2 linked regions of the Homo sapiens genome follow. The gene in region 2 interacts genetically with the main gene of each other region. Each region holds a gene or a part of one and is shown on either strand. Other genes may lie near its edges.

Region 1 (3,651 bases), about 52 Mb from region 2:
GAGAGCTGTCTCAGAAAACTCCTCCAGTAAGTTCTGTTTGTTCTTTAATGGTATTCTTCAGTCATATATTTCCTCACTGATGGTGTAATTTTGTAGATAAGCGTCCATTTTTCAATAGATACATGATATTTTGTGTGTGCCTGGTATAGTATCACTAAAGTTAATATCCTTTAATCGTTTTCCTAGTTGACATCTATTAGTTTCTCTTAAATTATTTGAATCTCATTTATTAATATTTAAATATGTATAGTCTGCTAGGCACTAGTCCCTGCACACCAAGGGCTCAGTCTACTAGGATGGTTAGACATGCAGAAAATGATGACTGTAACATGCTCAACAATTCAGTATGTCATGAACGAGGTGCTGTTGGGAACACCAAGAAGCCACTACTTAACTCTCTAGGAGTATCAGAGGATAGCCTCCTGAAGAAGCTATAGTTTGAATGAATAGTTCAACTCATTGCTAATTTATGAAAGGATATCTAGATGGAGGGAATAAAACCATTTACAAAAATACTAAGAGAAGACAGGTATGTTCCAGTAATTCAAAGTAGTTGGCTTCTAGTCTTTACGTAAGTGGGGAAAGCAATATGGCTAGAAAGATGGATTAGTTTCCTAGAGCTGCCGTAACAAAGTACATGTTAGTGGCTTCAAACAACAGAAATTTGTTGTCTTATAGTTCTTGAGGCTAGAAGCCTCAAGGTGTCAGTGGAGCTATGCTGAATCTCTAGGGGAAAATACCTCCTTCTTCACAGGATAAAATCTAGCAGTGGACTGATGAGCTCATGTTTGTTTTAAAAAGATCAGTGGGTATATTATAATAACTTTTAAAAGAATAGAAAAACTCGGTTTGAGAAGGTAATTTATATAGTACTTCGGTAACAGAATGACAGTTATAATCTTTTAACTTTAAAATTTCTATCAGCTGGGCGTGGTGGCTCACGCCTATAATCCCAGCACTTTGGGAGGCCGAGGCAGATGGATTATGAGGTCAGGGAGACCAGCCTGGCCAACATGGTGAAACCCCATCTCTACTAAGAATACAAAAATTAGCTGGGCCTGGTGGCGGGAGCCTCTTAATTCCAGCTACTCGGGAGGCTGAGGCAGGAGAATTGCTTGAACCCGGGAGGTGGAGGTTGCAGTGAACTGAGATCACACCACTGCATTCCAACAGAGCAAGACTCCATCTCAAAAAAAAAAAAAAATAACAAAAATTAGCCGGACACGGTGGCACGTGCCTGTAATCCCAGCTACTTGGGAGGCTGAGACAGCAGAATCGCTTGAACCCAGGAGGCGGAGGTTGCAGTAAGCCGAGATCATGCCACTGCATTCCAGTCTGGGTGACAAAGCAAGACTCTGGCTCAGGAAAAAAAAACAACAACAACAAAACTTCAAGTGCTTTTTTTGTAAGGTGTTCTGCACTGAAGATTACATTTAAAAAACCTTATTAGTGGTTACATATGCCCTAACAATATCTATAAATCTGTATATTTAATAGTCTTTTAGCTTCCCATATAAAATAATGTTTTACGTGTGCCACATTTCTATTATTAAAAGTGATATCTAAATATATAGGCACACAGTTGACATCTGCCTTGTATTTTCTAAATTCTTGGAGATCTAGAGCATACCTGAATTATAATACTAATCATTAGATTGATTGATTGATTGGAGATTTATTTATTTATTTATTTACTTGAGATGGAGTCTTGCTCTTGTCCCCTAGGCTGGAGTGCAGTGGCACGATATCAGCTCACTGTAACCTCCGCCTCCTGGGTTCAAGTGATTCTCCTACCTCAGCTTCCCAAGTAGCTGGGATTACAGGCATGTTCCACCACACCCGGCTAATTTTTTATTTTTAGTAGAGATGCAGTTTCTCCGTGCTGGTCAGGCTGATCTCAAACTCCCGACCTCAGGTGATCCACCCGCCTCGGCCTCCCAAAGTGCTGGGATTATAGGCGTGAGCCACTGCACCGGTCTATAATACTAATGATTAGATTTCATAGAAAGTCCCTGAATAATGAATACAGATAAGCATGGCCCAAGCTGTGGTCAAGGCCAGTTAGAAACTATCCTTGTCCTTTAGGAGGTGATAACAATCTCTGAAAGAACAGGAAAAAAATTCTATTTAATAGTTACCAATCTTTCTTACCTACAAAAACCCATGTTTACCCTATCCCCAGTACCTTCTACCCACCCATATCCCATACTCTACCCACCCTTGCTGCACACATACTTATTTCACTTTGAAAAGCCCCAAAAATATGTTCATTTATAGAATAATAGGAAGATGTCAACAACTTGAGAACTGTCCCCAGAGGCAGATTCCTTGGTAAGAGAAAGAAAAAAACCTCTTCATATAGGAAGTGAGATATAGGGGATAGTACTGTGCAATAAAATTGTGTTATCAAGAGAAAATGAGAGTCAGAACAGAAGCACTAATTTGGAAGGAAATAGTATGAATAAAAAACTAACCTGATATCTGATGGTTGTGTTTTTATTTAGAAGGGTTGGGGTGAACTAAGGAGGGATTAGGATAGCATGAAAGCCTAGAAAGGAAGCAGTTAGAAGGTTGGGGAGGACTACAGAAAGGGAGACAGATTGGGATGATAATTAGGTTGGTGTTGGATGAAATGAAATAATAAAGACTTAGCACAGCACCAGATTTATAGTGTTAGGTGTGGATTTGCTATTTTAGGATAGAAATTGTGAATGCTATACTTCAGTATGCAGCTTTTTAAAGTTTGTATGTTTTCTCATCATATAATCGCATGTTAAAAGCCATAATCAAAGTACTTTTAAAAGTCTGTACATTAGTCTAACCTATGCTTGTTATCTTGGCTATTTCAAAATTACCGTATTTTAATCAGTGTTTGAACCACAGGGAGCCATTATGAAGTCTGTCAAAATTGAATTTCCTGGCTGGGTGCAAGTGGCTCATGCATGTAATCCCAGCACTTTGGGAGGCTGAGATGGGCCGATTGCTTGAGTGCAAATGTGAAGACCAGCCTGGACAATATGGCGAGGAAGACCCTGTCTCTATTTGAAAAAAAAAAAAAAAAAAAGAATTTTCTAAGTTGAGTCACAAGATTTGATTGTACTAATGCATATTCTTCTATTTCAGAGTATGCGGTTGAAATTGATTGCAAATAATACAACAGTGGAACGGAGGTTTAGCTCATGGATTGGCGGCTCCATTCTAGCCTCTTTGGTTAGTAGATGAGCTACTTTGCAAAAATATTCTTACTGAATTATACTAAATTTAGTAAAAATACAAAAAATAATTCCAGTGCTTCATTTGTCTGTGCATTTTATAACTGTCAAATGAGTGGAAGACCTAATGGAATAACCAGTTTTATGTGTTCTGATGTAACAAAATGCCTCTGCCTAATTAGTGGACATTTGTCAGCCTAATTTCAATGTCCCCTCTCAAACAGAGGTGGAAATATGTTAATGTATGCATGCCTTTTCTAATAATACCCCCATTGGCACTGGTCAGGGCTTGTCTGGAGTGCATTTAAAATGAAAACATTGCTTCTCAAGTTCTGGTCATTCCCCAGTCTGCAGTGAGATCTACAGTGAGGTCTAGGAAGTCAGGAATTGGTCTTGGAGCAAATGGTGAAGTCATGGTGCGGGGTGTAAGATGTTGCTT
Region 2 (3,651 bases):
TATTTGTCTCCTGTCCCCTTGTGGAGATGAGCCCTGTGGGGACTCTGTCCCATTGTCTGGTTTGCCACCCACACCCAGAACTGCCTGGCACATGGTCAGTGTAGTCAGTCTTGTTGAAAGAGTGTCACCCTTGTAGGGCACACTCAGCCCTTCTCCAGCCACTGACCTCCCCAAAGCCACGCACACCCACAATCAGACCCACCCTCTCATGGCTTATCTTAGGACGAGATGCTGGCCCGCTTCGTGGTGGGCAGCCACGTCAGACACCACCCCAGCAACAAGGAGGAGGAGGGGCTGGCCAATGGCAGCGCTGCTGAGCCCGCCATGCCCAACACGTATGGCGTGGAGCCCCTGCCCCAGGAGGTCCTGAAGAAGTACATCATCTACGCCAAGGAGAGGGTCCACCCGAAGCTCAACCAGATGGACCAGGACAAGGTGGCCAAGATGTACAGTGACCTGAGGAAAGAATCTATGGTGAGAGCCCAGGCAGAGCCGGGAGGTGCTATGCAGAGAAGGAAGTGCAGTGTGAGCCTTCTGACCAATGCAGCGGGGGTGGTGGTCAGTCAGGCCAAAAGGTGCCAGAGCAGGGAGGCATTAAAAAAAAAATGTAGGTGCCAGGCACAGTGGCTCACGCCTGTAATCCCAGTACTTTGGGAGGCCGAGGCAGGAGGATCACGATGTCAGGAGTTTGAGACCAGCCTGACCAACATGGTGAAACCCAAAAATTAGCCGGGTGTGGTGGCACATGCCTGTAATCCCAGCTTCTCAGGAGGCTGAGGCAGGAGAATCGCTTGAACCCGGGAGGCGGAGGGTGCAGTGAGCTGAGATCGCACCACTGCACTCCAGCCTGGGTGACAGAGTGAGACTCCATCTCAAAAACAAAAACAAAAAATGAAAGTTGGGTACAGTGATTCATGCCTGTAATCCCAGCACTTTGGGAGGCCAAGGCAGGAAGATTGCTTGAGGTGAGTTCAAGACCAGGCTGGGCAACATAGTGAGGCCCTTTCTCTACAAAAAATGTTTTGAAACTTAGCTGGGCCTGGTGGTTTGTGCCTGTAGTCCCAGCTACTCAGGAAGCTAAGGAAGGAAGATCTACTTGAGCCCAGGAGTTCGAGGCTACAGTGAGCTATGATGGCACCACTGCACTCTAGCCTTGGTGACACAGTGAAACCCTGTTTCAAAAAAAAAATATTTTTTTAAATGATAGGTATTAATATATACCTTAACCATTTTGTTTTAGATGAAATTTAAATGTGCATTCATTTGTCTCAGTGTAGGGCCAAGGCCTTAATTGTTGATGTGCTTATTAAGTTCCATATTGACTTTGTGTAAATTTCACTCTAATGAACACAAGGTCTTTGGCTCATTCATAGTGGAATGGAAACTTAAAGCAGCTTGCAAGCCATGGGAATGCCGAGTCCTTGTAGATTGCTGCCTCAGCCACACCCAGTCAACACAGCAGCTTTTCAAATTTCTGCCTTTTAACTTTACCAAGTTTTTTCAGATCATTCAATTTAGTTTTCCTACAAACAACGACCTTTTTTTGCACTTACATTGTACAGGATTATTCAATATTTAGTGTGTGACAATAACCAATACAGCTGGCCACAAATACAACAGCCTCTGAGATGCACAGAAGTCAGCTGGTGGGAGCAGAACTGTGCAGGTGTGATGGTGACAGGCCGTAAGCATGCAGCATCCACTGGCATCCTCTGATTTCCAGGAGGGATAGGAAGTGTGCATTCACTGGGCAGCGCAGTCAAGCATTCTGCATTTCTGCTGGGGCACTGTCAGATGGGTCTTCTTGGCTCTGGGTGCTAAGAGTGCCGCTGCTTTATTTTCCTTGCTTCTCTTTCCTGCCCGTGAAAGACCTGACACTGTGCTTCTCTCCAGGCGACAGGCAGCATCCCCATTACGGTGCGGCACATCGAGTCCATGATCCGCATGGCGGAGGCCCACGCGCGCATCCATCTGCGGGACTATGTGATCGAAGACGACGTCAACATGGCCATCCGCGTGATGCTGGAGAGCTTCATAGACACACAGAAGTTCAGCGTCATGCGCAGCATGCGCAAGGTGGGTGTGCTCCGAGGTAGGGGCCTGATGGGCAAGCTCAGTGAAGGAGGCCACACGTGGGTATCCAGGGCTCTGGCCTGGACGTGCACCCAGGAGCGGCAGCCTGTCTGACCTGGGTGCTGGCACGTAGGGTAAAGGGAGTGTGGCAGGCGTAGTGGGAGCGGGTGTTTGACTGAGGCTTTTTTCCTGCAGACTTTTGCCCGCTACCTTTCATTCCGGCGTGACAACAATGAGCTGTTGCTCTTCATACTGAAGCAGTTAGTGGCAGAGCAGGTGACATATCAGCGCAACCGCTTTGGGGCCCAGCAGGACACTATTGAGGTCCCTGAGAAGGACTTGGTGGATAAGGTATGGGCCCGGAAGGGAGGTGAGGGTTGGGGTATGCTGACTTGGGAGCTGCCAGTCTCCTGATGGGGGCTCCATCATAATGGGTCATGAAGTGGGTGGGCCTTGGTTGACAGCCATTTATTGAATGCTTACAGTCTGTTGAGTCCAGTTCTGTGCCTGTAGTCTGACAGCAGGGGAGTGAGGTGAGTCCTGTTACTGCCTTCCTGTTGTGCAGAGGTGGAGACAGATACAGGGCAGCCAAGTAACTTGTCTCAGTTTACACGCACAGCTTGTACAGCAGAGATTTGAAGCCCCTTAATCGGCCTCTCCACCCCTGGATATTTTCCTCCCATAAATGGAGGTGATGGTGTCTGAAAGTGCACTGTAACTGGGGCGCTCTGGAAACAGCCTGTTCTCACACCACTGATGGCTCACTGGACACTTCCTCCTTGCAGGCTCGTCAGATCAACATCCACAACCTCTCTGCATTTTATGACAGTGAGCTCTTCAGGATGAACAAGTTCAGCCACGACCTGAAAAGGAAAATGATCCTGCAGCAGTTCTGAGGCCCTATGCCATCCATAAGGATTCCTTGGGATTCTGGTTTGGGGTGGTCAGTGCCCTCTGTGCTTTATGGACACAAAACCAGAGCACTTGATGAACTCGGGGTACTAGGGTCAGGGCTTATAGCAGGATGTCTGGCTGCACCTGGCATGACTGTTTGTTTCTCCAAGCCTGCTTTGTGCTTCTCACCTTTGGGTGGGATGCCTTGCCAGTGTGTCTTACTTGGTTGCTGAACATCTTGCCACCTCCGAGTGCTTTGTCTCCACTCAGTACCTTGGATCAGAGCTGCTGAGTTCAGGATGCCTGCGTGTGGTTTAGGTGTTAGCCTTCTTACATGGATGTCAGGAGAGCTGCTGCCCTCTTGGCGTGAGTTGCGTATTCAGGCTGCTTTTGCTGCCTTTGGCCAGAGAGCTGGTTGAAGATGTTTGTAATCGTTTTCAGTCTCCTGCAGGTTTCTGTGCCCCTGTGGTGGAAGAGGGCACGACAGTGCCAGCGCAGCGTTCTGGGCTCCTCAGTCGCAGGGGTGGGATGTGAGTCATGCGGATTATCCACTCGCCACAGTTATCAGCTGCCATTGCTCCCTGTCTGTTTCCCCACTCTCTTATTTGTGCATTCGGTTTGGTTTCTGTAGTTTTAATTTTTAATAAAGTTGAATAAAATATAAACGCTGGTATCTGTTGGCTT

The links. Genes that interact genetically often act in the same process or in processes that back each other up.
Region 1: changes in MCM2 (region 2) and ACTL6A together harm fitness less than expected from each alone (positive genetic interaction), as found in Homo sapiens cells (one large-scale study listed by BioGRID).

The regions. Positions count from the first base shown.
Region 1 is NC_000003.12:179,583,423-179,587,073, forward strand, and holds part of ACTL6A (actin-like protein 6A), read left to right. Parts: coding exon 1-26; intron 27-3,123; coding exon 3,124-3,210; intron 3,211-3,651.
Region 2 is NC_000003.12:127,618,805-127,622,455, forward strand, and holds the end of MCM2 (DNA replication licensing factor MCM2), read left to right. Parts: intron 1-222; coding exon 223-474; intron 475-1,893; coding exon 1,894-2,076; intron 2,077-2,268; coding exon 2,269-2,424; intron 2,425-2,858; coding exon 2,859-2,969; 3' UTR 2,970-3,632; downstream 3,633-3,651. UniProt on the Homo sapiens protein: Acts as a component of the MCM2-7 complex (MCM complex) which is the replicative helicase essential for 'once per cell cycle' DNA replication initiation and elongation in eukaryotic cells.